Linked DNA regions of Homo sapiens: region 1 is linked to region 2. Evidence: fine-mapped expression QTL. Tissue or cell type: whole blood. Region 2 holds a variant in brackets; the other region holds the start of a gene. All regions are shown on one strand. Distances are from middle to middle.

Evidence for each region.
Region 1: it holds the start of ZNF195, and the variant in region 2 is fine-mapped to the expression of ZNF195 in whole blood (INTERVAL, PIP 0.97).

Annotation. Positions count from the first base shown.
Region 1 is chr11:3,371,438-3,387,915 of GRCh38, forward strand. ZNF195 (zinc finger protein 195) reads right to left here and starts at 7,709. Exons shown (of 6, transcript NM_001130520.3): 1 at 7,601-7,709; 2 at 140-266. The coding sequence starts at 7,603. It also overlaps the pseudogene TSSC2. RefSeq lists enhancers at 7,410-7,973, 7,662-7,956 and a silencer at 7,415-7,484.
Region 2 is chr11:3,399,386-3,415,863 of GRCh38, forward strand. It overlaps the pseudogene TSSC2 and the pseudogene FAM86GP. Among named protein-coding and RNA genes, the nearest start is that of ZNF195, 28 kb to the left of the region's middle. RefSeq lists a silencer at 1,654-1,948 and enhancers at 4,620-5,454, 5,455-6,288, 6,646-7,159, 7,160-7,671, 9,901-10,401 and 1 more. The variant A/G (reference allele first, on the strand shown) is at 8,363.

The DNA of each region.
Region 1 (16,478 bases), 28 kb before region 2:
ACTATTCCCCATGTTTTTCTTAAAAGCAGGGATCTGAAACTCATTCATGCAACGCAGAAACTCCCAAAAAACATTCCGCAGAGGAACGAAAGGAACTCTTTAGGGCATAGGAGGAACTACGTATTGAAGTTATCCTCACCAACGGAGAACAAGTTTCTGTAGTTCTCCAACATCACATCCCTGTACAAATTCTGCTGAGCGAGGTCCAGGCATTTCCACTCCTCCAGGGAGAATTCTATGGCCACATCCCTGAACGTCAACAGAGTCTGAAGAAGAAACAACAACAATAACAAATACTTGATTCGAGGTGAAATGAGCGAGTGAAGAGAACTGGTTCTGACTTACACAAGTGACTGAAATTATACAATAAGGTAATTCTTAGCAGAAGAATACTCTCTAACTCTGAGGAAAGAGAATTGCCTGAGAGCCACATAAGCAGTGTATATACAATACTTTTCTGGTTGATAACAAGTATAACATTAAGGGCATCAACAAAGGCATGTCCATTTTTGAGTGCTACATTTACGTCACATGAATAAGCTGTGTATATTTCGCAGGCAGAAAAGTCATGGTGAGTTAGAAGCTGCCTCTCCAATTTTCATGTGTCCAATAAACTAGTGTGCAGATTTTGCTTCAGGAAATCGGAGGTCAAGGCTGAGTTTCCGAATTTCTAACGCGCTCACCAGTGATGCCAGTCCTTTGGGCCCAAGGACAATATTTTGTCAAAAATCCTGTAAGTGGCAAGCTTGGGTTTATCCCAGTTTTTCTAAACCATAAAGAGAGATGAGATTCTTCATCTTCTAAAGCAAGGCATATGCAAAAAGAATCTAAGAAGCAAAACCTTTCAGATTAAATGTGATTATTTATGCACATTAATTAGTAAATCTCCTCAAGGTACTTAAAAGAGAAAAAAATAAACTCCACAATGGAAAATCTGTCAGGGAGCTCTTTAAACAACTGAATAAAACTAATATCAACTGTAATAGGACAGATTTTTATCACGTGCCAATGCACAGAGAAGGACATATTACTGGTGTGATATTGGCCAAAAGGTCAATTATAATCTGAATCAAATCATACCGAAACCTTAGTGTTATGCAAAGTTCAAGAGACAAATAAATATCTCCCAGGTTCTGACAAATATCTCCCAGGTTCTGACAAATATTTCCCAGGTCCTGACAAATATCTCCCAGGTTCTGACAAATAAATATCTCCCAGGTTCTGACAAATAAATATCTCCTATGTTCTGACAAATATCTCCCAGGTTCTGACAAATATCTCCCAGGTTCTGTAATCTGTTTTCTTTTGTCTTGAGACTGAGTCTCACTCTGTAGCCCAGGCTGGAGTGCAGTGGCGCGATCTCGGCTCACTGCTACCTCTGCCTCCCTGGTTCAGGCAATTCTCGTCCCTCAGCCTCCGGAGTAGATGGAACTACCCACATGTGCCACCACGCTTGGATAATTTTTGTATTTTTTTAGTAGAGATGGGGTTTCACCATGTTGGTCAGGCTGGTCTCGAACTCCTGGCCCCAAGCGATCTGCCCACCTAGGCCTCCCAAAGTGTTGGGATTATAGGCATGAGCCACCATGCCCAGCAGTAATCTCTAATAGTGTATTAAAAGAGTCTTTCTTTAGCATTCTAAAAAGCAAGTGTCTTTTCATTTTTCTCTTTTCCAGAATGCTTTGAGTTATTCTGAGAGATAAATGTCATCTGGTTTAAATGTTTATTTTCTTAGTCCTGTTCTGCATGCAGCTTATGGAGCATCCAGATGAAACCTAAAGAGTGCACATTTCCCTTCTTTGCTGATATCCAAAAACCCACCCCATCCTCAAGAGGAATCCTGGGTATCCACAAGTTCAGTGCCACGAAGTGAACTTTTTAATACTGCAGGTCATAAAGTCATGGTAAGAATTCTTCATGGCATATAAGAAGTCAAGGTGAAGATAACAGAGAGACGGCTTTGGTATATAGAAAACAAATATTTTCAGAGACCCTTCATTATTATAAGAAAAAAAAGTAGTTGAAACAAACTTACTATGGAGAAACACCACAAGTAGAGAAGTAAAGGTTTCCAAATTCTAAACACATGACATTTCAGGAGCAAAAGTGGACACAACCCCTGACCTGAGATGCATTTACCTGAGCACCAGCCATTTCTTTCTCTTTCTCCTGCTTCTCTGGGATTTCCTCTTAGGAAAGATTCTCTGGACAAATCACACCTGCATCGTGAGAATATGCCTTTAAAGGTGTTAGCACAACCCCTTCACCTGCTACCACCACAACCATCAACAGAAAGACCAAGAAATACAGAAAAAGTCCACGCTTTTCTGTTCTTTATAAAAGAGATTCAGGAACAGTAAACTTCTACATGGAGATCAAAATGTGACTTTCTCTCTTCCTGCTCTCAGGTTCCCTCTCCTGCTAAACAACAGCAATTCTGCTTCAGCAATTGGAGTATAAGCTGCACTGAGCTGGCCTCTGAAACCTAGGCAAAGAAGGCCCTGTGACCTCCCTTTGGAACCAAGGCTGAGCTCAACTCGTACAAATGCATCTGAAACCCCCCATCACTGATTCTGGCCACACCTTAGAATCCCATGATGCATGTGACTTAAACAGCACTGGTGCTTCCACCCAAACCAATAGGCAGAATCTGTGAGGGCAAAGGTGAGGGCCTTTTTTTGAGTTGTCCATGTGATTTAATTAGAAGCCAGGCTGAGAACCATTTAGCTAAGCCTTGCTTCTCAAGCTTCAATGTGCATATGAATCTTTTGGTAATTTTGGCCCCACTCTAAGTCATGTGATTCTGAAGATTTCAAAGGGGTTCATGGGTTGGATTTTTTAACAGTTCTGCCATTAATGGTGATGCTGCTCCCCCAAGACTTGTGATCATTAACACTCAGCTAAAGAAAGCAGCCCCAGCACAGTCCCTTACACCCAACCCTCTGACCACAACATAAGTTCTTCTGGTGCAAATGGAGACAGCCAATCTCTATTCTGAAAGATTACATTATTTCCTGGCTCTTTAAAGTTTTCCAGGGCTGGAGAAGGAAGCAATGTCTGAGTCTGTCTGCATTTGGAAAACAATGTGTACACACGTATGAATGCAGTGTTTATTAAGCAGGCACGGGGTGCTCGGATGTATGTGACAGCACTGTGCTGGGCACCTCACGTCATGTGAGTTAATCCTCACCACACCCTGGGTGATGGAACCAAGTGTCCTGCAACTCTCAAGATATAGATGAAGGGACCAGGCTTTGTGGTTCCTCTTCTATTTTCCTATCATTAACGTTTTAAAAGTGTAGTGATAAAAGCTCCAGATAGACCAATGGAAGGGATACAGAGGGGATGAAGTGTAGTGCAAAGGCACTTTCCATTGTTGTGTTTATCTTCACTTTCTTGTGGCTTGTGAAGCAACTATTAGACCCACAGGACTGAGAAAGAGCTTGCTGGATACGATGTCTCTAACAGCGCTGGTGTTAGTAAAAAAGAAAAATTAAGGCTCCAAAATAGAGAGTCCTTTGATCCCATTTATCTGCTTTGGGGTTTCCGAAAATTCTGTGTATCAGTTCCGGAGAGGCAGCAGGAGTCAAACTCTGATTTAACTCTGTAGTTAAACTCCAAACTGATTTAACTCTGTAGCTAAACCCAAAACTCTGATTTAATTCTGTAGTTAACTCTGTCGGAGGAGAGTCCAGGGTGAAGCCAGACCTGGATGAGACTCAGAGAAGGAGAGTCTGGGCATGTCTGGGCAGGGAGAGGGCCCTACGCAGGATTCTGCTCTCTATGCTACTAGAGTATTTACAATTCTGTTTTTCCTAAAACTGCCCCCCACCCCAAAATTTAAATCCCAGGGTTTGTATAATTTTAATCTATTTTGGCCACTTCCTTGTCTATTTTATAACATAAAATAACAAGCAATTTAACCGAAACCTTTAGGATTTTCTAGGACAGATATGGTAGAAGCTAAATATTTATTTTTAGCCGGGCAAAAGCAACAGAAATAATACCACCACCACCTTGTCTGTCTGAATATCCCTTCAATATGACATCAGAACTCACAACAACCACATCAGGAAAATGGCCCAAATGAAGCAGAAGTCCCTTTGACCACTCCCTTCTTCATGCTGACCCCAAGACGCTGAATTCAATGATTTATCCAGTTACTGGAAATGGAAAAGTTTCTGGCTTGCGGGGACCATGGCTGCCTTCTCTGTTTTCCTAATGGCTACACAGGATGGAATCAATTAGTTTATCAGTTTGAATCTCCAGATCTCATTTTTGTTTTTTACTGAAGTACCAGAAAAACTGGAGTAATTCCCATGTGGATACCAATGAGGTTTCTTCTCTGAGGGGAGGAACAAACCCTGGGTGACTCATTTCTCTTATTCTACAACAGAAGCACAGATAGACCGTTTTGTCAGCCTGAGCCCCGTCTGCACAGTGCACTCCTGAATGTCCAAAAGACTCCAGGTGCTGGTGAGAGAGTTCCTGGTGACCCTGCACAGATGCCCTCTATGGCCATGAGATCCATGATAGTTGCTACCTTCTCCCTGTTGCAATCCTCCTTTAGAGTTCAATAACTTCCTATCTAAAGCTAAATTTATTTTATTTGACGAAGTCTAGAAACAGCCCCAGGATAATAACGATTCCATACCCAGGAAGTCCTCCCCAGCTTCCTTCCATCCCAACTCTAACTGCATCTGCCTGTGGGTCCCCAGTGCTCCCGGGCTCTGCAGCTTCTCTCTGTAGAAAGGCTCCTTCCATGGTTGCTGTGAGCAGTCTGGCGCACCCGCAGGGGAGGCTCCTTGGGAAGCACTAGCTAGGCCAGGGGTGTCCGATCTTGGCTTCCCTGGGCCACACATAAAATACACTAACACTAACGATAGCTGATAACTGAAAAAAAAAAAAAATCACAAAAAAGTCTCATAATGTTTTAATAAAGTTTACGAATTTGTGTTGGACCACATTCAAAGCCCAGGCCAGCATGTGGCCCAGGCCTGTGGGTTGGACAAGCTTGAGCCAGGCCTTCGATTGCTTTCTTTTGCAGACTCAGTATTAGCCTTAGCTTGGAATGACTGTTCTTGGGCTTCAACTTCCCAATCAGGGTTATCCACTTAGGTTTAAATAAGAAAATACCCAGTGTTGGAAACATCCAACAAAATCACTGAAACAGTTTACAGAAGAAAAGGAAACTGTAAGCACTTACACTTTCACCTCCACAGAAAAAGCAAAATTATTTATTGCTTTCAGACAATGAACTTGTCATTTAACTATTTCCATAACAAATCATATAGTAAACAATCACATGTGAACACTTTTAGAAGTGCTAAGTTCCATCTCCTACAACTTAGCATTAAGCTCAGACATCTAGAGAACAGGATATAAAACAGAGATACTCATGACAACAAATTCATCCTGCAAAAAGAGCTCATGTTCTGATGAATCTATGCAATTTACCAAGTAATCTACCATAATTTTTTTGTAGAAAATGTAAACATTCTCCACAGCCATCCAAGAAGCATTTTATGTTCCCTGGTAGCATTCCCAAAGCTAAGCCCTGGGATTCTGTTGGAAATCATCTTCCACAAAAGAACAGACCTAAGTAACTTTCTACCCTTAATCACTCTGGAGAAGAAAAAGGTATGTATGACTAGATATTTAACTTTTTTCCTGAAATTGACCTATTTCATGTCCTTTGTAAGTATTTTCTTACCTTTCAAGCTCTACTGATAAAATGTAAATTTACAATTAAAAATCCAACATTGCAGTAAGTGAATAAATTATTTCAAGGAGACACAGAGAGTGGCAGTGCCGACTGGAACACAGACACAGCTAATGACTTGTGTCAAGTCAGGCTATTCTATTCCTTGGGAGATTCTCCCACCTCCATCCTGTTCACCGAAGTGCTCACCGGCCACCCCCGATGATACACTGCACTGTGCCCCGCTGAGTGTCCCAGGTGAATTTTGCTTTACAGGTTTTGCACCATCTCACGGGGTGGAGTTTTTCTTGCTCTTTGAAACATTCTGTCTCCCTTCACAAATCTGAGAGTCCAAAGGGCAGAAATGATTTCGGTCTTTTCCCTCTGACAGGGGCATGTGATTGGCTGATCAGCCATGTGTCTCCAGGGATTGAAAGTTGGGTTGGGTGAAGACAATCTTAATGTCCTAAGTGGTTACCTCTTTAGAGGAAGAGTAGACCAGGAGATTTCTCTCAGCCCAGGGCATCCAGCTGCTCCCTGGAGAGGCCACACTTCATACCTCAGGCTGTCCTCTGAGAAATAACCCAGGGCCTGAAATTCACTAGATGCTCCAGCAGACATGGCCATGGTGGGCATCCTGTGTTATCCCTGGACAATACTGAAACTGAGGAAAAAGTCCAGAGGGTGGCTGAGAGCAAATCACCCTGTCAAGTTTCCAAAGTGGAACCTCAAACCAAAGACATTCTGGTAAGGTGTCTGTGCCTAGGGAAAATAAAAAGGAGGAGAGGCACAAAGACTTTTTACAATAGCGTCAGGGGATGATTCTCTGCTTTCCTGTCACGTGGAATGATTACAAACAGAAAACAAATCTCTTAAAAAGTGCCGTCCAGGCTGGGCGCAGTGGCTCACGACTGTAATCCCAGCACTTTGGGAGGCCAAGGCAGGCGGATCACATGAGGTCAGGAGTTCAAGACCAGCCTGGCCAACATGGTGAAACCCCGTCTCTACTAAAAATACAAAAATTAGCCGGGCGTGGTGGTGCAGGACTGTAATCTCAGCTACTCGGGAGGCTGAGGCAGGAGAATTGATTGAACCCGGGAGGCAGAGGTTGCAGTGAGCCGAGATCGCGCCACTGCACTCCAGCCTGGGGGACAGAGCGAGACTCCATCTCAAAAATAATAATAATTAAATAGCAGGCAATCCGACTGAGGTGGCTCTAGTGCCCTGGGTTCTTAGGTTAAAAAAAAAAATCTAACTCAGATGCGTTTCTTGCAAATGACTATCTTGCAGAAACAAAATTCAGGCTTCGTCAACCACAAACCTCTAATTAACTTCTGATTACAGGACCAGAAAATTTCAGCCTAGATAGCTGAAATCAGGAGATGACGTAACTGTACCGAACTAATGAATGAATGTGGTTTGCTTCCTCATGCACCTGATAAAAGCCTTTCCTTCAAGGCCGGCTGGTGGGACCTCCAAACCCAAAAAACATGGTTGGGTCCTCTGCCATTCATGAATCGCTCTTTGCTCAAATAAAACTCTTTCACATTTTTGCAAGGACTCCCTCGAGAGAAAGGAGGGACTGGGGCCCCCACGGGCTACAGATCATCCTCTTATGCACAAACCACCCACGGAGTCGGGATTCTCCCTTCCTGACTCGGGGAGACGAGGGTCTGCGGGCGAAGAGCTGCCGGGGGGACATGGCTCTGGGCTTGGGCCAAAGCCGCTCTGCAGGGATGCGCCGGGGCGCGCGGGGCCCGGCCGCCATGGTGCAGCTGGAGGGGCCTCGGGTCCGCGGAGCCCGGAACCCACCCGGGCAGCCCGGTTCCTCCCGAGCCGGTACCGCGGGTTCCAGTCCGCCCCTCCCTGTCTCTCAGGAGGCCTGGCCCCTACACTCACCATCTCCTGGCCTCCAGAGAGCCTGGCGTTTCACTTCTGGATCTCCCGGTGCCTGCGGGTCACACGACCTACGGCTAGCAGGGGACACAGAGCCGCGGGGACAGGAAGTGGAGCTCTGTCGGGACAAAGGCCCCGCTAGATCCCGGAAGCCGTCCTCTCCTCTCCAGACATGTGCCTGATTGGACAGTCCCCGCCCCTACTCCTCTGATTGGATAGGGCATCACGCCCCGCCCCCTCAGGCCCTGAGTGACAGGAGCTGTAATCAGACAATGGGCCGAATGAGACAGCAAGGACAGGTGCTGGCCGCGATCTTTTGGAGCGGGGCTTCCTGCCTGCGCTGTCCGGCCCCACCTAGAGGATATTTACATTTCATCTTGTGACTGCGGTTATGTTTATTTATAAATAATAAATATATGTTATTCACCAATGGAAAGAAGAAAATAAAGACAATCATTTTGAATTTTTATATTTTATGGCCTTCCTGGCTTTTGGTCCTTTGAACAGACAGCCTGAAATTTCAAAAAGGATTCAAGCCTCTAAGAATTAAAATGTAAGCCATGTGTGAATCTTAAATTTTCTAGTAGCCACGTTTTAAAATGTACTAAGAAACAGGTGAAGTTGATTGTAATAATTTAACCCAGTATGTAACCATTTTCCTCTATGGTCAATATACAATTGGTAAGGAAGTATATATTTTGGGGTACTAAATCTTTGAAGCTCACTCTGTATTTTACCTTTTCAGCACATTTCAGTTCAGACCAGCTGTATTCCTGTTATTCAATAGCCACACATGATCAATAGCTGCCACACTAAAGTGCAGCTCTGAGGTCTAACCTCCCTTATGTCAGGAAGTGGAGGGTCTGAAAGTCCCTTTTCAGCCAGAGGTGAGGGAACAGCCTCTTGCTACAAACATCTCTCCTCCGGTCGAAGGGTGGACGAGATGGTGATCCTAGAGAGCATAGGGGAAAGCAAAAGAAAATATCCACGGGTAGAGGACTGCTGCCCATCAATAATGGGGCCCTAAGAGGAGAGAACACATCTTCAGATCTGTCCATAGCCTTGACCTCCAACATTTAGATATGGAGGAAATAGACTAGAGGCAGACTTATCTTGCTATTTGGCCTTAGCCCTAATGATCAAGCTGTGATTGTCTGTTTCTTCCCGTGGTTGGGGGGCTGTGTGAGTAAAAGCACCAATCACATATATACATGTGTACATGCATTTCTGTATGACGGAACATTATCTTACAAAAGATCCAACTTTAAATAAGGGGGGAGAATTAGTACCTATAAAGTGCTTTCTTCTTGCAGGTAACTAGGAATCAACCTTTCATTGAATCCTGGCACCCTATCTGCCCTGGGTGCATGTATTAGTTAGCTATTGCATAACAAATCACCGAAAACTTAATAGCTCATGATTGAGTTCATCAGCCATTCACGCTGAACTCAACTGAGCTATTCTTGTCACAACTGGACTGCTTCATGTATGTATGGCCAGCTGCTGGTTGACTAGGTGGCTCTGCTTCTGGGGATGAGATGGCTATCAACAGTGGCACCTTCCTTCTCCCCACCATGGTATGTCATCCTCCAGCTGGCTAATCTCATAAAGATAGCAAGGTTCTGATAGCTTGATCTCATAAAGATAGCAAGGTTCTGAGAAACACAGAAGCATTTAAGACCTTTTGAGCCTAGGCCCAAAACTAGCACAAAAGCTGTCATATTCGCAGTTGATACGGTCTGGCTGTGTCCCCAGCCAAATCTCAACTTGAATTGTATCTCCCAGAATTCCCGTGTGTTGTGGGAGGGACCGGGGAAGGGGGTAATTGAGTCATGTGGGCGGGTCTTTCTCATGCTATTCTCATGTTAGTGAATAAGTCTCACGAGATCTGATGGGTTTATCAGGGGTTTCCACTTTTGCTTTCTCCTCATTTTTCTCTTGCCGCCACCACGAAAGAAGTGCCTTTTGCCTCCCGTCATGATTCTGAGGCCTCCCCAGCCATGTGGAACTGTAAGTCCAATTAAACCTCTTTTTGTTCGCATGTTCAGGAATGTCTTTATCAGCAGTGTGAAAACAAACTAATACAACAGTTTTCTATAGCCAGAGAAAATAGTGCCAGCCAGATGCAAAGTTTGGGAAACACATTCGGCCTCTTGATGGGAGGAGCTGTAAGAGCACACAATAAAGAGCATAGATACAGAGAGTAATGAAGCATTGCTGCTGTTTCTGCAATCAGTATTATTCTACCCTTTCTTGCAGAAGAGGTTTATATTACTGCTCCAAGTCAAGAACCTTGCCCAAAGTCCCACAGCTGCTAAGCAGCTGGGCTGGTACTCAGGATCAGCTCTGCCTGGCTCTGCAGCCCTTACTCCTGCATAGACTGCACTGCTCATACAGCTTTCCAAGGCCTGCAAGTTTCTGGAGAGTAACTCTTCTGCAATAGAGGCAGAATTCCTTTTAGATTTGGACCCATATGGTGCTGTTTACCATTGGGAATAATCAATCACCTCGAGAAATTGCAGAAGCTTCTTGGAAGGACATGGAATAATTTGAGGGAAATGGCTGATAGATGACTTTAGGAAATCAGAGCCCAACAACAGAGGAGCAATTTTAAAACAGAATGTATCCTATATGTCTGTAAATGCTTTCATTCCTTTTTGGTATTTGTAGGCTGTTCATAATTTTCAACACTGACTATAAGTACTGTGACTGAAACAACCTCTTACTCTGAAATCAAGTGACTTAAAGATACATCTGCTGAGAAGACTTTTTTTCTGCAGCAATTTATCCGAACAGCTAAGTACATCTTGGAGGTGTCCGTTGATTTTTAATAAGGAAGAGCTATTTTTCAAGCTCCTATGTGGCAAATCCCATCAGTATGCATGGAAACCAGCTACAGTGAATGCATTCTTTACCCTGAATCAATTGTTCTCACCCCTGCTACATGTAAAATCACCTGGGGGGATGGCATTTAGAATTTCCCAAACCCAAGCTGCCACCGACCAGTAAAATGAGAATCACTGGAGTGGGGCCTGGGCAACATTGTGGCTTAAAGGTCTCCGGGGGATTAGAGTGTGGGCCAGACCCCAAACCACTGCTTTTTTTTTTTTTTTTTTTACTTTTACGTTCAGGGACACAGGTGCAGATTTGTTATATTGGTAAACTCACATCATGGGGGTTTGTTGTACAGATTATTTCATACCCAGGTATTTGTTTTCTGCTATATCCCCAAGACCATGAATCATATCTGGCACATAATAAGCATTTCCTAATATTTGTTCAAAAAGGATTTGGCAGTCTTGGGGGGCAGAAGGGGGGGTGGGGAAAATTTTTAAATAACACAATTTTTTTAAAAGGCACAATGTTCTACAACGTCAAATTCTCTTGTATATTCAGGAAAGTTGAGGGTTTTTTCTAAAACATGCTGACATAATGGGAAATAAGATGCAAAATTTGCATGAATGTTTAAGACAAAGTCTGAGGTTTCCAAGAGATGTTGTGCTGGGGAGGCTGTGTGCTACAAGCTCGCAAAGCTCTGGGAGGACAAAGCATTCATCCTCCCTAGCAGAGGCCGTGAGGTGAGAAGCTCGGTGGAGCCCCCAAGCTTTGGACTTTTAATATAGAGTGTTCAGGTCCTTATAGTTAGGGCTCATGGCACAAGCAGGTCACAGGTCTCTGGCTCCTCTGACCTTTACCCTCCTTCCCAAGGGAAAATGTGACTCTCCAAAGCAAGAAACTTGAGGGCGTGGTTCACCCCAGCCCTGGCATCTGCCCAGAGCCTGAGAAGGAAGGAACAATGATCCTCCAGCTACCTCACAGGGCTGGCACAGGGGGTCACTGCCTTGTGGATTGCCCAGCTGTGTCGGGCAACCTGGACCCTATCTGTGGGGATGTAAAGAGGAAAATACAAAAGTCTCCATGAGGGCACTGGGAAGATAGAGGCAGGAGAAACCTCCAGGCCTTCACTACCCAGCCTTGGACCCATGGTGGAAAGATAACATAGTTGGTGATCTTGTGTGCTTACACTCCAGGTGGCACTGTGGCCTCGTTGTGGCTCTGAAAATGAAGATTTGGAAGGAGTTCATCACAGCTAATGTTTAACAAGACCCTACTGTATGCCAAATCATTCACCCCTTGCAACAACTTAATAAGCTAGGGATTCGTATTAGATATATTTTACAGAAAAGGAAACAGAGACATAAAGAGGTGAATGAACTTGCCCAGATGGCACAGCTAATAAGTGGTGGAGGCAGAACAGAATCTACACAGTGTGGCTCTGGAGCCCACATTCATTGATTCCGCAAGTGTTTATTGAGCACCTGCCATGTACAAGGTCTGTGCGATTAAATAGGGCTATAATTAATAATATAAGCATTATAAACCACTAGCACTTTTTAGAGTTAACATTTTCTTTTTTTTTTTTGCAGGTTTGAGGCACAGAGCTGTATATACAATAACAGTGAAATTGATCCCACTACTAATTATGACAAAAATGATCTTCCACGTAAACAGGTTAGATGTTTTCTAGGTATTATCTCATGAAATCTTGACAGAAACTGAATGAGGAGGGGGCCGGGTGCAGTGGCTCACGCCTGTAATCCCAGCACTTTGGGAGGCCGAGGCGGGGGGATCATGAGGTCAGGAGATCGAGACCATCCTGGCCAACATGGTGAAACCCCGTCTCTACTAAAAATACAAAAAAATATTAGCCAGGCGTGGTGGTGGGTGCCTGTAGTCCCAGCTACTTGGGAGGCTGAGGCAGGAGAATGGCGTCAACCCGGGAGGTGGAGCTTGCAGTGAGCCGAGATTGCGCTACTGCACTCCAGCCTGGGTGACAGAGCGAGACTCCACCTCCAAAAAAAAAAAAAGAAAATGAGGAGGGAAAGTTGATTGTTCTGATTTCACACAGAAGGAAATTGAGGTTAGGAGGGGTAAAGTAATTTTGCATGGCATGAAGTAGAAATTCGAAGTGTAGGGATTTGAACTTGGTCCTGCCCTTTTCTGAAGCCCCCATGCTCTTGACCACTGTGGACTCAAACCTCACCTTGTTTCTCCACTCATTCAACAAATAGATTTGTTTAAATTATCAAATAGGTTGCCACTCATCATGAGCCTCTGTTCCCATTCTACAGGTGGTGAAGCTCCTTATGGTCCTGACCCTACAGTTCCTGTCCCATGACCAGGGCCAGATCACCAAGGAGCTGCAGCAGTTCGTCGTCAGTGGCAGCCCCATGCGAGCACCCGAGGAAGGTGAGTGAGCACAGACAGATGGGTCCTGGTGCCCTGGAGCAGTTCCCGGGTCTCGGCTGCCCCAGGTCTCATAGTGTGGCCATGCTGGGGGAAGCTTAGGTAGTCACAGTACTGGCCTTTTTGGGTGAGTACACTGGTGACATGTTACTGTATTCTTGGGCTAGTACACTGGTGACATGATGCTATATTCTTGGGTGAGTACACTGGTGACATGTTGCTGTATCCTTGGGTGAGTACGCTGGTGACATGTTGCTGTATTCTTGGGTGAGTACACTGGTGACGTGTTGCTGTATTCTTGGGCGTGTACACTGGTGACGTGTTGCTCTATGCTTGGGTGAGTACGCTGGTGACATGTTGCTGTATTCTTGGGTGAGTACGCTGGTGACACGTTGCTGTATGCTTGGGCGCGTACACTGGTGACATGTTGCTGTATGCTTGGATGAGTACGCTGGTGACACGTTGCTGTATTCTTGGGCGTGTACACTGGTGACATGTTGCTGTATTCTTGTGTGAATACGCTGGTGACATATTGCTGTATTCTTGGGCGTGTACACTGGTGACATATTGCTATGTTCTTAGGCAAGTACATTGTTGACATGTTGCTGCATTCTTAGGCAAGTACGTGGGTGATATATTCCTGTATTCTTGGACAAGTACACTGGTGACATGTAGCTGTATTCAGAGGTGAGTACACTGGTGATGTATTGCTGTATTCTAGGGTGAGTACACTGTTGAAATGTTGCTGTATTCTTAGGTGAGTACACTGGTGACATATTGCTATATTCTTGTTCTTCGTGTCTAGCAACTCATACATGTTTACCAGAATATTCCTAAAGGTTCATTTTCACCATCAATTCTACCCAAAACTCGGTTAGCCCTTTTAACAGGCAGATTCAGCTTTTCCTTTGTTTCAGGAAATTTTCTTTTTTTGTGCTTAATCACGGCCTCTCCTCCATCTACCTCTTTTCCTCCCCCTGAAACTCCTATGTTATTTGCACCTGATGTCCTGGGTCTGTTTTCAAATCTTTTCTCTCATGTTTTCAATTTCTTTGTATTCCTGTCAATTCAAGATTTTTCTTCTACTTAATCTTTGAGGCCATTAATTTGAATCTTAATGATCACCTTCAATTCATTTGCAACCGTTTTTCAGTAGGCTTTATTTTTTGGAACAATTTCTGCTTCACAGCAAAATTAAGCAGAAAGTGCAAAGAGCTCCCATAACCACCTGACCCCACACATGCACAGCCTCTCCTACTATCAGCATGCCACACCTACTATCAACATGCCACACCAGAGCAGTACATTGCTTACAATCAATGGGCCCGTGTGGACACATCATAATCACCCCAAGTCCATTGTCCACATTGGAGTTAACATTCCGTGTTGTACATTTTTTTGGATTTTGATAAGTATAATGGGAAGAGGACAGACACTGATCTTCACTGTGTTCTGTGGCTCTTTGTGGTCCAAGTTTTTCTTCAGACCCATCACATTCCAATCTTCTCCCAGACCATGGTCTCCAATGCTGTTACCCAAGTTCTATCCCACCCAGAGTTTCAAGTGAAGCCTAAAACCTTATCCACAACCTTACGACCTCTCTGCCCACTGTGCTGCAGAGCAGAGGCTGAAATGGGTTGGAGTGAAAGTCAGCAGGAGAGGTACTATTTACTCAAGCTACCATCTTCCAAGAACATCCTTCAAATTTTAATTCTGAAAGGACATGCAAAATTTATAAATGTTAGTCAACAGAATTCAACAGGGAATCAAAATACATATACACTATAACCAAGCTGGATTCATTGCAGGCATACAAGGATGGTTTAATATAAGGAAAGCTAGTTCAATAGACAGAAGCAGAGACAACTACGTGGCCATTCTAGGGAGGCCCTGAGATGAATGAGTAACCCAAACACAGATGCTGCTGACTGAGCTGTTAAATTCACCATTTAATCAGGTAAAAGTCTGCCTTTATGAGAAGCAAGGTGCATCTCTGCAGAGATTAGCATATAATTTGTCAATCTGGAGGATACCTCACTGGGACTGGGATCAGAAGTAGGGACTGATGGAGAAACAGAAGGAAAGGCGGGAAATTCTCATGCAAAAGGGAGGAGTCCCAGACAAGGGCAGCTGGGCCAGGGGCCTGAGGAAGAAGGCAGCCAATGGGAACCAATGCCCAAGAGCATGGCCAGGAGAATTCGGGAGCAGGTACATCTAGTAAGCAGACTTCAGTTTTCTTTTCAGCAATGTGCTCCTCTTATGCTCTTCTCAGGGTTTAACGTGCATCCCTTAAACAAAGTAGCCTTTTATTAGCAATGATTTGGTGATTACAGAGTGTCTTAGTCCATTATTGCTGTTATAACAGAATATCTGAACTGGGTAATTGATAACAGAAAGTTACTCTCTCATAGCCCTGGAAGCTGGGAAGTCAAAGATCAAGGTGCTGGTGTCTGGTGTGGGCCTTCTTACTGTGTCCTTACATGTTGGGAGGCAGAAGGGCAAGAGAGCATGAAATGGTGTCCTCACATGGAAGAAAAGCAGAAGAAGGTGAATGCTGGGCTGGCTTTTACTGCCCGCATCATGGGGGGCGCCTCGCCCCCCTCCGATGGGGGTCCTAAGAGCCAGGGGGGCAAGAGGGGCTGGCTCTTACTGCCCGCATGGCGGGGGGCGCCTCGCCCCCCTGTGATGGGGGGTCCTAAGAGCCAGGGGGGCAAGAAGGGCTGGCTCTTACTCCCCGCATCGCGGGGGGGGGGCCTCGCCCCCCTGCGATGGGGGTCCTAGAAGCCAGGGGGCAAGAGTGGCTGGTTCTTACTCCCTGCATCGCGGGGGGCGCCTCGCCCCCCTGCGATGGGGGGTCCTAAGAGCCAGGGGGGGCCGGGCGCGGTGGCTCACGCCTGTAATCCCAGCACTTTGGGAGGCCGAGGCGGGTGGATCATGAGGTCCGGAGATCAAGACCACCCTGGCTAACACGGTGGAACCCCGTCTCTACTAAAAATACAAAAAATTAGCCCGACGTAGTGGTGGGCGCCTGTAGTCCCAGCTACTCCGGAGGCTGAGGCAGGAGAATGGCGTGAACCCGGGAGGCGGAGCTTGCAGTGAGCCGAGATCGCGCCAATGCACTCCGGCCTGGGCAACAGAGCCAGACTCCGTCTCAAAAAAAAAAAAAAGAGCCAGGGGGGCAAGAGGGGCTGGCTCTTACTCCCCGCATCGCGGGGGGCGCGGCGCTCCCCTGCGATTTGTATCGTAATATCCGGGGGGGAGAGGCGGGTGATATTACTTCCCGCATCGCGGCGGGCGCCCTCTCCCCACTGCGATGTGGCTCTTAATATCCAGCGGGGGAGAGAGGGTGATATTACTCCCTTTCTCCTAGTATTTTTTCTCTACTGCCACACTTGGTTAACACCCTGGGACATTATTTTCCATATTCTAGGAAGGTGTCACTGTTTAAGTTCCAGGGGGTATACACCCTGTGATATTATTCGTGATATTGTAGCGAAATGTGAATCCTGATGTCACAAGTCTCTACACACTCTGATATTATTCGCAATACCCTAGCGGGACGTTAATAATAATGTCACAATGTGTGTACAGCTTGTGCTATTATTATTAATCTCCTAAGGGGAGGTTGATTTTA
Region 2 (16,478 bases):
TGGCAAAACGGACATTGGCACCAGGAGTGTGGGTCAGAGTCCTGCCCCTTGGAACTACATCATCACTTGTACAGTGTACCCCCCAGGCACCAAGAGACCAGGCTGAGACTCTTCAGTTGCCCTGGGCCTCTGGTCAGTGTCTTCCAGCCTGGCACACAGGCAGGCCCTCATAAAACAATGAGTGCTGAAAGTTCCAGCCTTCTTGGTGGGTTCTCAGCACCCCGTCGTGAGCCACACCCTGCCCCAGGGAAATCAGGGTCGCCCTGCTGCTACCCCTAGGCCAGTGCCCCTTCTGAAGTGCCCCAGGCTGGCACCCCTATACTTAGATCTCTTCAACCTCCTCATGAAAACCTTCTTGCCCATCACCCCAGCATTCCCCGGACTGTGCTAAATGAGCAGCTGACCACACGTCAAATCAATTTTCAGAGTTTGCCTTTGGTTTAATATTCATGGCTTATCCAAAAGATCTTGTCACCATAGCTAGATGAAAAAAATGACAAGGCTCTGGAGAAGCAGAACCACAAGATGGAGGATACCTGGGTCCCAGGTTCATGAGGAGAGGAGCTGCCTGCTCCACAGACTGGCACGTGAGTGGGAATGAAACTTTTGCTGCGTTTAGACCATTACCTTTCTTCACTCTGTCACATAGTCTACCCACGCTAAACAGAACTTGACCTCCACCAGACCGTTTACATCAAGACCTGTATGTGCAGTGCAGTGGCCTGAGCCTCCAATCCATGCCCCACCTATCAAACTGGCCTTGCCATATTCCTACTCTGAGAGTGGTATTCTGGGGACAGAAGCTCAGTGCATAGAATTGATGAATGCGAGATCCTTCAGGCGCTTTGCACTTTGAAGTCTATCCATCCTAGCACATTCCAAGTACAAAGAAGACACTTCAGCAGTACAACCTGGCCTACACTCAGTTCAATTCCTTCTTCAAAAACCTAGGCCCGGCCAGGTGTGGTGGCTCACATGTGTAATCCCAACAATTTGGGAGGCTGAGGTGGGTGGATCACCTGAGGTCAGGAGTTCGAGACCAGCCTGGCCAACATGATGAAATCCCGTCTCTTCTAAAAATACAAAAATTAGCTGGGCTTTGTGGTGGGTGCCTCAAATCCCTGCTACTCCGGACGCTGAGGCAGGAGAATCACTTGAACCCGGGAGGCGAGGTTGCAGTGAGCTGAGACTGCACCAAGGCCCTCCAGCCTGGGCGACAGAGTGAGACACTGTCTCAAAAAATAAAGAAAGAAATAAAAATAAATTGAGGAAGGATTGAGCATGCAAAATAGAATCAGCCTTTGACCCTGAATACCCTGCAGTGAGAATTCCCCTGTGGTTCTCAGGCTTCTGTAATTCCAGCAAATACACTCTTCCTTCAGGTTCACTAAAATGCAGATATTGTGAGATAATGCTCATTTCTCACAGCTTGCTTGAATAATAATAATGATCATTATAGTAATTTACAACTTAATAGTCAACACTGCCTTTTTAACCCAGTCTGTGAGACTGAATCGTAAACGTGACATTCTTTGAAGCTCTCAATTAATATACCAGACTGCATAAACTCTAATAACTTACCTTTCCATGGAAAGAGAATATGTGGGTATTCTCTTTGAAGACAAATGGTGGAGAGTAGACTCTCATCAAAGACCCTCTGGCAGTAATGAGTTGCATTCGGGAAGGTTCCAGAAGGTTCTGTGGAAGGCTGCAGTTTGGGATTGGTTCTCAGGTGTCTGTCTAACTGCTTTCTAAGGATGAAGACTCCTGGTTCGTGCTTTAGCTACACCCACAGGAGCAACAGACTAAGACATTCCTCCACACCATAACAGACCCAGGCAGTGCAGAGCCATGTGGGTCTTATCTGTCTTGCTGTCCACAGTCTGGTTTTATCTTAGACCCAGCCTGGTGCAATTCATGTTGTGTATTGGCACTCCACTTAAGTTTCCTGTTTGTAAAAAGCCCCTTTCATTTGGTGATTCCTAGGGCTTTAGGGGAACTTTCTGGAAACGTGGAAGAAGGAAATAAAGGTTGTTTTGCTGAGGATGGGTTACATTGGGCGTGGGACCCAAATGAGTGGTTTGAGCAAAAAGTAGCCTCCACGCTGGACTAATGCTTGGCAACATTATGGGAAAATTTGGGGAAGCTGGGAGAGGAGGGGGCAGAGTTTCTTTCCCAGCCAGCCAGGGGGTCCAGGCAATTTTGGTCCTAGAACATCTCTCTGTGCATTCCCAAGTAATTGCAAGGCTTCTTCTTGTCATCGTCTGAGACTTGGATTCCCCAAGCATCCTTCTTTTCCTGGAGCCTCTGAGTCCTCTATTCCTGAGGCCTTTCTTCAGCCCTCCCAATAGCCCTGCCATGATTTCATTGCAGGGCTGTGACCGTCTATGACAAGCCAGCATCTTTCTTTCAAGAGACCTCTGGACCTGCAGCACCAACTCTTCATGAAGCTGGGCGGCACGCACTCTCCGTTCAGGGCCTGGTAGGCCTCCCATCCTCAGCTGCCTTCTCTCCTGCTTGCCAATGCCCTGTCCTCTCCCCTTCTCACTGCAGACCTGGGAACCCACTCATCCAGGGGTTGGCAAACTAAGGCTACAGGCCAGTCTCCTGCTTTTGTAAATCAAGTTCCATTGGAACACAACACACTCATTAACTTCTGAGTTGTCTACAGCTGCCTTTGAGCTACAACAGCAGAATCGTGTTTTGCAACAGAGAACCTGTGGCCCGCAAAGCCTGAAGTATTTACTCTCTGGCCCTTTAAGAAATGTTTGTGGACCCCTGCGCTGTCTTACTCTCCTGCCAGTGGGTTCCCAGGCCTGTGGCAGGATCTGTGGACCTGTGTGTCCCCTGGGGTGTCTCACGGGGCTAAGGAGGGGACCTTAGTGCAGGTCCACACACCCTGAGGTGTGCCCCTGGGTAAGCTGGAGTGGTGTGGGAGGGTGTCCCTGCACCCTCATCTTGAGTCCAGGGGATGATAAGACAGTAAGTCGCGTGGAGAAAAGGAATGAGTCAGTCTTGTTTGCTGTTGTAACCTTAGCACCCAGCAACAATATTAGAGAAAGCAAGCCCAGGCCTCAGATGGCAGGGGTGGCCTGGTGCTGCTGATGTGGCTGGGCACCCCAACCTTTGGGAGCCTGCAGGCCTTGCCATGGCAGGAGATGCCCGTCCTGGGTCCCGGGCCTGCTCTGTGGCCTCTCACAGGCTTTTTTCCTGCTCTTTCATCTCAGAACCTGAGGACCCAGACACGGAGCGGTCGGCCTTCATGGAGCGGGATGCTGGGAGCGGGCTGGTGATGCGCCTCCGCGAGCGGCCAGCCCTGCTGGTCAGCAGCACAGGCTGGACAGGTCTGCACGACCCCTAGAACACTTGGGCTTGGTGTGACGGGCACCTGGCCAACCTGTGTTCTCCTCACCCCTGCCAGTCCTGCATGCCCCCACCCCGCCACAGTCTCAATGAGAAGGGGAGGGCGTGTGAGCTGGAAGAGGGGTGTCTAGAAACAGGCCCCTGACATTCAATTCTCTTCTCATAGAGGACGAAGACTTCTCCATCTGCTGGCAGCTTTAGAAAGTAGGTGTGTAGCTGCGGTGAGGATCTATGGGCTTGTCGGGGGCCGCTGAGCTGTGAGCTGCTTGCCTGGCCTGCAGCGTGTTGCTGTCCCGGGCCACTGGGTGGGGCAGCCTGGGGACAGCGGGGGTGGTGGAGGTGGGCCGCCCTGAATCCCCAGTTGGGTCATTCAGTGACCAGGCCCTCAGGCTGAAATGCCCCCTCCAGGAGAGTATCTCACAGAGGCTGGTGGCCTCCCCACCAGAGCAGTGCTCTTTCTCCACCTGAACAGGTGACTCTGGCTATTGTTTATTTAAAACTTTTTTTCTGAATGGGCACGGTGGCTCACACCTGTAATCCTAGAACTCTGGGAGGCCAAGGCAGGCAGATCACCTGAGGTCAGGAGTTCGAGGCCAACATGGCAAAACCTGTCTCTACTAAAAATACAAAAATTAGCTGGGTATGGTGGTGGGCGCCTGTAATCCCAGCTACTTGGGAGGCTGATGCACGAGAATTACTTGAACCCGGGAGGCAGAGGTTGCAGTGATCTGAGATCACGCCATTGCATTCCAGCCTGGGTGACAGAGCAAGAGTCTGTCAGGAAAAAAAAAAAAGAAATTCTATCAGAAATTCCATGTAGAATTGTTTCTTTTTTTAAACACAGAGTTTGAACAACTGACTCTTGATGGACACAACCTTCCTTCTCTCGTCTGTGTGATAACAGGTACCGCCTAGGACCCTGGGTGTCTGATTGGTTGGGGGATGGCGGAGGGGGAGGGGCACGCAGCCTTTACCCTGTGCTTCCCACGATCTTGTCTCCTTAATCTTCACTGCAGCTCTCTGCCATAGGGTCTTATACTGCTTGACATGGGGGAAACTGAGGCTCAGAGGATTTCACAGCAGGGCAGGGAGCCCAGATTTGAATCTGTAGATACCAAACTTTCTACTTTTTCAGTAGTTTCCAAGCATCTTTTTTTTGTTGTTGTTACATCATTGGTGTCTTTTTTCTTTTTTTTTTTTGAGACAGAGTCTCTGTCGCCCAGGCTGGGGTGCACTGGTGTGATCTGGGCTCACTGCAACCTCCGCCTCTCACATTCAAGCAATTCTCATGCCTTAGCCTCCCGAGTAGCTGGGACTACAGGGGCCCACCACACCCAGCTAATTTTTGTATTTTTAGTACAAACAGGGTTTCATCATGTTGGCCAGGCTGGTCTTGAACTCCTGACCTCAGGTGATCCACCCACCTTGGCCTCCCAATATGCTCGAATTATAGGCACGAACCACTGTGCCTGGCCATGTCATTGGTGCCTTAACCAAGCCTCTTTTAATTTTTCAAACGGAAGAACCCCTGTCCCACAGTTACTGCTGCTGAGCCCTTTCAAGGTGACTCTGAGGACGGAGAAAAGCGGAAGTGGTGTGGGAAGAGGCGGGGTCTGGGCCAGCTGCTGGTCCTGCTCTCCTCCCTCCTCTGGCCACTAGGCTCCCAGGAGTGGTTTGGAGCCCACGCCATGTGCTCTGGGGGCTGTGGCAGGGCAGGGGCGGTTTGGAACCTGCGCCATGTGCTCTGGGGGCTGTGGCAGGGCAGGGGGAGTCCTCGTGTCCCCTGTGCACAACACAGACAGAAGGCTGGGTCCACCCAGTGGGCGGTCGACTGCCAGGCCAGTGCTTACCCCGCCATGTTTGCAGCCCGAGGCCAGCTGGCTGCAAATGCAGGGCTGTGCGTCAGGGGTCAGAGTGCACACACCCCTGCAGGTCTAGGGGCTCCTGCGTTGCTTCTGGAAGGGCCTGGATGGGACCTGACTGGAGCGGCCGAGGGGTGGAGCTTCTGGGAAAGGGATCCCTCCTCGGGGGGAGTGTCTTGGGCCTGAGGCCAATTGGCAGGGACAGAGACGAGTCCATGGCAGTATCTGCTCTTCTCTGTGAAGGCAAAGGGCCTCCGAGGGAGTATTACAGCCGCCTCATCCACCAGAAGCATTTCCAGCACATCCAGGTCTGCACCCCTTGGCTGGAGGCCGAGGACTACCCCCGCTTCTAGGTGAGAGGCCAGCAGGAGGCTCAGGGAGGAGGCGGGGCCTTAAGCAGGGGGAACAGGGGTGGGCGGGATGTACTTTTTCTGAAAATGTGGCTCTGGAGGCCACTTGGGGACAGGACCTGGGCTCTGGCTGAACTCCCGGGAGGAGGCTACTTCCTGGTGTGCCAGCCCCTCCCTGCCAGGTGGCCCCAGAGGCCCTTTACCAAGGGGTTTGAGGAGGCCACGTCCTTTCAGCCTTCCGCGCCCTCCATTCAGTCCTCTTCCTTCCTGCAGGAGGGCTGGGCCTGGGGTTGGGGCCACTGTTGCCCAGGTGTGGGAGGGCAGTGGCTTTGGGAGGTACAGGGACGATGTGTGAAACAGCGTCGCCTCTCCCAGTGAGATGGTTCTCCTTTGCCTCCGTCTCTTTCCCCGTTGACTTCTCCAAGTGGGGAGTCGTGGCTTGGTCCTGATGCGTCTCTAGAGCCACATCTTCCAGCTTCGAGTGAGCAGAGCAGTTGGAGGCTGAGGGCCTTTTCCTGGCAGGACTCTCCAGTTAGTCTTTGTTTTAGACAGTCTCGCTCCGTTGCCTAGGCTGGAGTGCACGATCTCAGTTCATGCAACCTCCGCCTCCTGGGTTCAAGCGATTCTCCCACCTCAGCCTCCCGAGTAGATTACGGGATTACAGGAGCCCGCCACAACACCTGGTTTATTTTTGTATTTTTAGTAGAAACAGGGTTTCACCGTGTTGGCCAGGCTGGTCTTGAACTCCTGACTTCAAGTGATCCTCCTGCCTTGGCCTCCCTAAGTGCTGGGATTCCAGGCGTGACCCATCACGCCTGGCCCCAGCTAGTCTTTAGAAATGTTAAGCTGTTTCACTTTATTTTCACACTGACAGCTGGTTTGTAGTGGGTGTGCTGTGGTTTTTTATTATTATTATTATTATTATTATTATTATTTTGAGACAGAGTTTCGCTCTTGTAGCCCAGGCTGGGGTGCAATGGCACGATCTTGGCTCACTGCAACCTCCGCCTTCCCAGGTTCAAGCAATTCTCCTGCCTCAGCCTCCTGAGTAGCTGGGATTACAGGCACCTGCCACGATGCTTCGCTAATTTTGTATTTTTTTTAGTAGAGATGGGGTTTCACCATGTTGGCCAGGCTGGTCTTGAACTCCTGACCTCAGGTGTTCCACCCACCTTGGCCTCACAAAATGCTGGGCTTACATGCGGGAGGTGAACCTGGGAGGTGGAGGTTGCAGTGAGCTGAGATTGTGCCACTGCACTCCAGCCTGGGTGACGGAGTGAGACTCTGTCTCAAAACAAAACAAAACAACAACAAAAAAACCAAATTGTGGTTACGTAGAAAAAGTGTCAACTTACATTTTCAGATGTCCCAGCCAGGCCATGTGGCTGCTTGGCCAGCTTAAGCCACTTGTGCTTGGGGCTGTCGGGGGACTTATCCGATTTTCACTCCCCTCGGGGGATGTTGCCTCACTGTGCTGGGAGGATTTGTGTTCCCAGGGCAGAGACCAGCGCTCTGACCGCACCCCTCTTGCCCAGCAGGGTCGGTGGATCTGGGTGTCTGTCTGCACACGTCCTGCAGTGGCCTGGACCTGCCCATGAAGGTGGTGGACATGTTCGGGTGCTGTTTGCCTGTGTGTGCCGTGAACTTCAAGTGGCAGGAGCAGAACCCGAATCTTTCTGGGGATAGCTTCACAGATCCACCGCTGAGGAGGAAACAGTGCAGAGCGAGCTGCCCACAGTGAGGCCCTGCTCCTGGGTCAGTCCAGCACACACTGGAGGCCACGAGGAGGAGCCCTGCGGTTACTGTGTCTGGGCTGAGCCTCACTGAAGTAGTTGCTTCCATTTAGAGCTCATGTTATATTTAGGTTGATACAAAAGTAATCACGGTTTTTGCCATTAAAGATGGCAATTACTTTTGCACCAACCTAATATGAAAAAAAAGCATCTTAAATACTGGAACTCCACTCGGGGCTTTTGCTCCTAGAGTAGAATTGGCGGGAATTGCCTGCAGGCTTACATGGTTTTCTTTGTTTCTTTCTCTCCCACCATGTCCTGTTTGGCCAAGCTCACGTGCTGGGTTTGAATGAGTTAAATGAGTGTCGTGCTGTGGCCTCACTGCACCCAGCGTAGACGGGCATTTGGAAGGGCGGTGTTAGAGGAGATTCTAGAAGCAGTAGCCCCAGCACAAGCTGAGCCCTTGGCCCCTGCTCAGGAGCCGGCTCCTGGATGGGAGTCAGGGATGTGAGCCCCTCGTGTGAGCTGAGCTCAGGGAATGTCGGGATCAAACCTGGTGCCCTAGAAAAGTCATCTTTTATGTGCTGAGCCAGTCCCCAGGGTGTTGCCTTTACTTGTTCCATGGCCATGGAATTAAGCAAAACATGCAAAAATAATTCTTCAGTCCTTGAAGAGCATCCAGCACAGAAGGTAGAAACCCTCCTTAAGGCTCCCTCCTCAAATCGGTTTGGCCATTTCGATGTGCACCCCCCCAGGCCTTTATACCCTTCAGATGCCAAATCTAAGAACCAGCTCCCAGAAACCACACCCCCTGTTCCAACCCCCAGCCTGGCTTGAGCATGGGTTGTTGGGGGGAGCCCAGGTGGGCACCCCAGGGGTCTGGTGTCTTCTCCAGGCAGCTCTCAGGCTCCCTTGGTTCTCTCTGCAGTTTACATGAGCTGGTGAAACATGAAGAAAATGGCCTGGTCTTTGAGGACTCAGAGGAACTGGCAGCTCAGCTGCAGGTAGCCACATCTGCCACCACGCCAGGGTGGGGAGGGTTCTGGAGGCTGGC[A/G]CCGAGCCACGCTCCCTGATCCCTGCTTCCCACAGCCAGGGTGGGACCATGTGGGGTCTGGCGGAAAAGCTAGGGAGGGAGCAGAGGTCACAGAGTCCGGCCCACTCTGCTGTCCCGTTTCGGTACAGTAAGCTCGGGAAAGTTAGGACACACCCCCACCTGCCCTCTGGATTTATGGAGCTGACATTCCACAAATGATGCTGGAGCCGGGTGGGCCGGGCTGCAGTTTAGGAAGTGATCAGGGTCAGGTAGGTGCGTGGGCAAAGGGAGCTTCTGGGACCAGCCTTGAAAGATGGGTGGAATTCTGCAAAGGTTACTTGTTTCTTATTGCTAAAAGTAATACATCATTCTTGCCAACAGAATGATTGGCAGGATTTTCAGTAAAGGTCCAGGTCAGAAGTCATTTAGACTGGGTCCCCCAGTCTCTGTCAGAACCATGGTACTCTGTTGTGGTGTGAAAGTAGCCACAGATCATCTGTCGATTAAGGGGTGTGGCTTTGTTCGAATAAAACTTTATTTACAAACACAGGCTGTGGGCTGGATTTGGCCTGCAGGCTGTAGTTTGTGATCCTTGATTCAGACAGTTTAGCAAGGCTGAAAAGAACACCGACACCCCCTTGTTACCCACAGATGGGTGGGACTTGGCCGGAGGCCAAGAGGAGGGTGCTCGCAGGGGAACATACAGCATGTAGAGGCCAGGAGGTGCTCCAGGGCACCAAGTGTGGGAAAGTGGGACATACGGGGAAGTTTCCAGAAAGCATGATGTCAAGTTGGAGGCAGAGCGCTGCTGGGGCATGAAGAGTCTCGAGTCCAAGTGAGGGAGTTAGGAACTTGGGAGGGGTTGTTGTTGGGTAGGGGACCTGGGGTCAGCCAGGTGGTGACATGGGATGGGGTGGGGACAGGCAATGAGGTAAGCTCTGCTCTTTATTTTTTTGCAGGTGCTTTTCTCAAACTTTCCTGATCCTGCGGGCAAGCTAAACCAGTTCCGGAAGAACCTGCGGGAGTCGCAGCAGCTCCGATGGGATTAGAGCTGGGTGCAGACTGTGCTCCCTTTGGTTATGGACACATAACTCCTGGGCCAGAGGCTAAAACCCCGGGACCCCTGCTGTCCTTCCCACAGCTTCTTCTCAGAGTCTCAGGGCAAATCCTTTCGAGCAGCGCCTCCCAGTGGCCAGAAGCTGAAATGATGGCAGTAGTGCCACCTGGTGAATGAATTGGTTCTGTGACCCGGGAAGCTGTGCTTGGCTCTGATTTCTTTTCTGGAGGCTCGGAAACACTTCCTCTCTTCTTCTGTTCTTCACGCCCCATGCCCCTGCTAGCGTATTACTGTTCTGTGACTTCCCTGTGACCTCTGCAGTACTCCTCATCCTGCGTTTGGTCTCCAGGTGTCACCTTTCTGCCGTGTTCCTAACATTTTGATTCCTGTCTTGAAAAAAGCACCTGCTGCACCATAAGCCCAGGGATGTGGCAGCTGCAGCGGGCTTGGCTTTGTGAAGAACCGAGTGTGTCCAGGGATGTGGCAGCTGCAGCGGGCTTGGCTTTGTGAAGAACCGAGTGTGTCCAGGGATGTGGCAGCTGCAGTGGGCTTGGCTTTGTGAGGAATCGAGTGTGTCCACCGATGTGGCAGCTGCAGCGGGCTTGGCTTTGTGAAGAACCGAGTGTGTCCACCGATGTGACAGCTGCAGCGGGCTTGGCTTTGTGAAGAACCGAGTGTGTCCACCGATGTGGCAGCTGCAGCGGGCTTGGCTTTGTGAGGAACCGAGTGTGTCCAGGGATGTGGCAGCTGCAGCGGGCTTGGCTTTGTGAGGAACCGAGTGTGTCCAGGGATGTGGCAGCTGCAGCGGGCTTGGCTTTGTGAAGAACCGAGTGTGTCCAGGGATGTGGCAGCTGCAGCGGGCTTGGCTTTGTGAAGAACCGAGTGTGTCCAGGGATGTGGCAGCTGCAGTGGGCTTGGCTTTGTGAGGAATCGAGTGTGTCCACCGATGTGGCAGCTGCAGCGGGCTTGGCTTTGTGAAGAACCGAGTGTGTCCACCGATGTGGCAGCTGCAGCGGGCTTGGCTTTGTGAGGAACCGAGTGTGTCCAGGGATGTGGCAGCTGCAGTGGGCTTGGCTTTGTGAGGAACCGAGTGTGTCCAGGGATGTGGCAGCTGCAGCGGGCTTGGCTTTGTGAGGAACCGAGTGTGTCCACCGATGTGGCAGCTGCAGCGGGCTTGGCTTTGTGAGGAACCGAGTGTGTCCACAGATGTGGCAGCTGCAGCGGGCTTGGCTTTGTGAGGAACCGAGTGTGTCCACGTTGGGGGGAACATCATACTTGATACACACGTTTTTATTTGCACAAAGAAAATGCTATTTTTGGAGCCAGAGTTTTCATGTCTGATTGATGGCGATTTTCTTAAGAACCAGAACTGCTGGCAGAAAGGGAGCACCCACAAGCTTAGATAGCCGATGTCTTATCAGAGGGCAGTTTGTGGTTCCTGATTTGGAAATTAACATTCTCCAAACATTCCAGTCCAATGAAAGTTTTATCCGCTTTCCCATATAAAAACTCTTCCCACGAGAGTGACTTGATTCTCACAATCCCGTTGGAGTCGTGTGTGAGTCCTACAGTGTGAGGTTCAGCATTGCCATCTCCAAGTGCTCTTCGTAGGGAAACAGTTTCTGGTCATGACGAGGTTCCACTTCCCATCTGATCCCGGCCCGGCCTGGAAACAGAGGACATGTGTTTGAAGATGGCAGTGTTTGGGGACAGGACATGAGCGTATTGTGTGGGGCTGCTAGGACAGGCCTGGCGGGGTGGGGGCGTGTACAAGTCAGTTTACTTGGTTCACAGGTTCTCAGGCCCACCCAGGTGCCTAGAATTGGCCTCCAGGATGGGACCAGAAATCTGGTTTTGCATAGAAATGGCTAGCAGCAGGCACCGTGCCGCTGTCCAGTCTCTGCCCGCGTCTGCCCAGCACTTGGCACAGCGGGACAGACGCAGAGATCTGAACCCACACTTACCTGGCTGCTCAGTCAACTCACTCTTCACAAAGCTTAGAAAGCGGCCAGGCACAGTGGTTCACGCCTGTAATCCCAACACTTTGGGAGGCCGGCCAAGGCGGGTGGATCACTTGAGATCAGGAGTTCGAGACCAGCCTGGCCAACATGGTGAAACCCCATCTCTACAAAAATACAAAAATTAGGCAGGCACAATGGCGGGTGCCTGTAATCCCAGCTACTTGGGAGGCTGAGGCAGGAGAATTGCTTGAACCCAGGAGGCAGAGGTTGCAGTGAGCAGAGATTGCGCCACTGCACTCGAGCCTGAGTGACAGAGTGAGACTCCATCTCAAAAAAAAAAAACAAAATCACACACACACACACACACACACACACACACACACACACACAGCTTAGAAGGGGCTGGTGTTCTCATAAGCACAGATGTCTGAAGAGCCGTTAGCCAGAATGATTCTTTTCTTTTTTTTTTTTTTTTTGAGATACGATCTTGTTCTGTCACTCAGGCTGGAGTGCAGTGGCACAGTCATTGCTCACTACAGCCTCGACTCCTGGGCTCTAGCAATCCTCCCACTTCCTGAGTAGCTGGGATGACAGGTGCATGCCACCATGCTAGTAATTTTTTTATTTTGTAGAGATGGGGTCCTGAATGCATGGCCTCAAGTGATGCTCCTGCCTCAGACTCTTTTATTATTTTTTTTTTAGACAGAGTTTTACTCTGTTCCCAAGGCTGGAGTGCAGTGGTGCAATCTCAGCTCACTGCAATGCATCCCAGGTTCAAGTGATTCTCCTGCCTCAGTCTCCCGAGTAGCTGGGATTATAGGCGTGCACCGCCACGCGTGGCTAATTTTTGTGTTTTTAGTAGAGATGGGGTTTCACCGTGTTGGCCAGGCTGGTCTTGAACTCTTGACCTCAAGTGATCCGCTCACCTCAGCCTCCCAAATCCTCTGCCTCTTACAGTGTTGGGATTACAGGCGTGAGACACTGTGACACGGGATGATTTTCAATCACAGTTTTTTGTTACGAGTGGAAAATGTGTATTTATAAAAATAAAGTAGTACAGACATGAACGTGTAGAAGTCTCTATAATCCTGCCATCCAAGGATGGCACCTGTTAATGTGTATATCAGGGATGTCCAATCTTTTGGCCTCCCTGCACCACATTGGAAGAAGAAGAATCGCCTTGGGCCACACATAAAATACACTAATGCTCGCAATAGCTGATGAGCTAAAAGAAAAAAAAATCACAAAAAAACCTCGTACTGTTTTAAGAAAGTTTACAGATTTGTGTTGGGCCACAGATTGGACGAGCCTGCTACATATATATTCTAGGTTTTCCCCAATAGGTATACTTATGTGAAAATGATTATTGTGATACTTTTTTTTTGAGATGAAGTCTTGCTATGTTGCTCAAGGGGGCCACAAACTCCTGGGCTTAAGCCATCCTCCTGCCTCAGCCTCCTGAGTAGTTGGGAATATAGGTACTCATAAACATGTGTGGGTGATTATTATTATTTTTTAAACAAAAATGGGGCTGGGCGCAGTAGCTCACGCCTGTAATCCTAACACTTTGGGAGGCTGAGGCAGCAGATCGCTTGAGGTCAGGAGTTCAAGACCAGCCTGGCCAACATGGCGACACCTCGACTCTACAAAAAATACAAACATTAGCCAGGTGTGGTAGCACGCACCTGTAGTCCCAGCTACTCAGGAGGCTGAGATGGGAGGATAGCTTGAACCTGGGAGGTGGGAGGTTGCAGTGGGCCGTGGCACCACTGCACTCCAGCCTGGGCAATACAAAGCCAGACTGTCTCCAAAAAAAAAAAAAAAAAAAAAAAAAAAAAAGGTGGGTGGGGGCTTATACTATGTGTTCTGCTTGGCACTGTTTTTTTCACTTCAAAGATATTGCAGTTATTTTTTCACATAAGTATCTGAAGAAAGACTTCCTTTTTTTTTTTTTTTTTTTGCCTTTTTGAGACAGGGTCTTGCTCTGTTGCCCAGGCTAGAGTGCAGTGGTGAGATCAGGGCTCACTGCAGCCTCCACCTCCTGGGCTCAAGCTATCCTCCCACCTCAGCCTCCCGAGTAGCTGGGACTACAGGTGTGCGCAACCATGCCCGGCTAGTTTCTGAATGTTTTGTGGAGATGGGGTCCCACTATGTTGCCCAGGTTGGTCTTGAAATCGTGGTGTCAAGAAGTCCCCCTGCCTTAGCCTCCTAAAGTGCTGGGTTGACAGGCCTGAGCCCCGCGCCCGGCCAGCCTCCTGTGCGAGGTTGTGCAGGACTTTGTCGTGGAACCCAGTATGCCTTCGTGTGCTGGCTTGTTTGTTGGCTCTGTAGTTAACGCGCTGCCCCACGTGGACAGGCATTGGACCCACGTCTCTGTGTGCAGGCAGAGGCTGCTGCGCGTGCATCTGTGCACATGGCTGCCAGGAGGGGCTGTGCTCAGGGTGATCTGGGGCAAAGGCTGGTGGCAATGGGGGGCTTGGGTGTAGTGTGGAGGCACGAGAGCCAGGTGGCCGAGCTGCAGTCTGTGGGAGCTCAGGGGTTGCTTGGCCTCTGTGTGTCCTAGTGTCTTTGTCGGTGAGATGGGACAATGATAGCACACTCTCACAGGTGCTGGGGGCTGACAAATGTCAGGTCTGAGGACAGTGGCTGGCCCACTACGGGGACAATTCCCCTTCTCTATAGTCACCCTGCTCGTCTTCCATCAACTGGGTGCTCAGGACAGTGGCGTGGTGGATCCGCCTGTACAGCCTGTGCTCCAGCGTCCTGCAGGCCACAGCTGTGTCCAGCCCTGACCCCGACTGCCCCTCCCACCACCTCCATTTTATAGATGAGGAAACCGACGCCCAAGGGCTTAGGGAACCCTGCTCTGAAGCACACAGTAGGGCTGCTGGGCTCAGATCCTCCCTCCCTGTGCTGAGCTGCCCTCCTCCTGCCGCAAGCTCCCACGCCCCAGGCCCACCCTGCTCACCGGCCTCTGCCCTAGTTCCCCGCATGGTGTGGGAGTGTGGGGCATCCTAGCTTTTCCTCGGCCCCCAGTTCTTTCACTTCCACTGGAGTCCCGCAGGGACAGCTCGGGGACCATGCAGGCCCGGGTGGGCGTGTGGGCTCACATAGCTCGGTGGTGAACAGCTGGCACGTCTCTGGGTTGCGGACGATAAGGGCCACGTAGACTTGAGGAGCCCGCTGGTGCTCCCGGTAGGCAGCCAGCCTCCGCAGGACCGCGACCAGCGACACGATGGATTCTGGGCAATACAGCACGTCTACGGTGAAAGCTTCAGGTTACTGAAAGGGACCAGCGGACAGTTCCAGGTCATGCTGACCTCAGCAGCAGGGCGAGGCCAGAGAGGCAGCAGTCATATGAGACTAGTAGATGCCATTTGACCATTTGGGCCATTAGATGGAAAGGCAATTGCTTGGGTGAAAAAGGAGAACCCTTAGTAGAGAAAGCTGCAAAAGACCGAAGCAAAAGAAAAAAATCTCCAGACTCACTGGTGTTCCTTAAAAAATGAGCTCTGGTTCTCGGCCTATCTAGAGGGCTGTGAATGACACAAAGCCTGACCCTGCCATGAACTTCGTGTTTCAGGTGTCTGCCGATTTGTCTGCTGGCTTGCAGGGGTGGGCCTGTGTCCCTGGCCACCGCTGGACCTGTGGGTTTCAGGGCTGGGACCCAGGACCACAGGCAGAGCTCTGTTCAACCAGAGAGGAGACCGAGTGTGCTGGCAGGGGCGAGGGGTTTTCGGTGGCCCAGCCAAACACCACCTTCTCTCAAGGGCCCTGTCCTCATCCCAGAAGTGGTTGTTTTCCTCCTGTGGTCTCTGAAAGACAGAGGCATGGCTCTGGGACAGAGCCATGTGGTGATGACTGTAATGGGAGTATGCCTGTCTCCAACAAGAGGGCTGTGGCTGGAAGGTCACCTTAAGAGGCACCCCTGTCCTTTGATGTCACCCTGGAGGCCCAGAGTAACTCTTCTGGAAGCCCCATCATGTCCATGCCCGACAGCGTCCATTGTTCCCTTTTCCCAGAGCCCAGAGCTGGGTAGAGCTGCAAGGACACCGCCTGCACAGAGTGCCCGGGGCTGGGCATTGCCTGCTGCAATGACAACATCTGGCTGGATGGCAGAGAGCTGATGGACCGTCGCGACGTCCCAGTCCAGCTGGGCCACTGTCACCCTGGGGCTGTCTAAGTTGGCAGAGATGTCTGCCTCTAATGAGAGGCCATTGAGAAGGACATTCCCTCGGAGCTTCTCGAGGACCTGGCTGTGACAGTCGCTGAAGATGTATGCCTGGAGGCGGCACATCTTGCAGATGGCCAGGCCTGTGAGGCTGGCGCCACTGCCAAGCTCTAGGACAGTCCTGGCGGGAGGAAAGGGGACCATGTCTGTAACTGCACCAGGGTGAGCCTGCCTCGGTGTCCTGCCGTGCGCCCCGAGGTCACCTATGAGAGAAGGCTGCCGGGTTCTCGATGGCCCATTCTGCCAGGTAGAGGGCAGCATCTCATGTGACCAGGCCTGTGATGCCATGGGAGATGATGGCTGTGCTCTCGGAGAGTGTGACTGAGCCTCCCGAGGGCTGCACCAAGAGAGGGCGAGAGAGTCAGTCCAGCAATCAGAAGGCAAGTGGCTTAGAAGACAAGTAGCCATCCACCACATGGCTGAATAAACCATGACAGGACCAATCGCCACTCAGCAATGAGAAGCAGCTAACTGTTGACATGCCAACAGCTTGCACGGGCCTCAAGGGTGTCACGTGGCATGAAAGACACTCATCTCAGGCCACACAGGATTCCATTCATCGAACATTCCTGAGACAACGGAATTCTGGTGATGGAGCACAGGTCAGTGGTGGCCAGGGGCCAGGTGTGGCTATGAAGGGGTGGCTGCCTTGTGATGATTCAATATGCTATGTTTTTCCTTTGTGGTTTTCTGTATCTATGTTTTATCTTATTTTCTTTTGAGCTCTGTCACCCAGGCTGGAGTCAGTGGCACAATCTTGGCTCACTGCAACCTCTGCCTCCTGGGTTCAAGCAATTCTCCTGCCTCAGCTGCCCAAGTAGGTGCAACTACAGGCATGTGCCACCATGTGTGGCTAATTTTTCCACTTTTTTTTGAGACAGAGTTTCC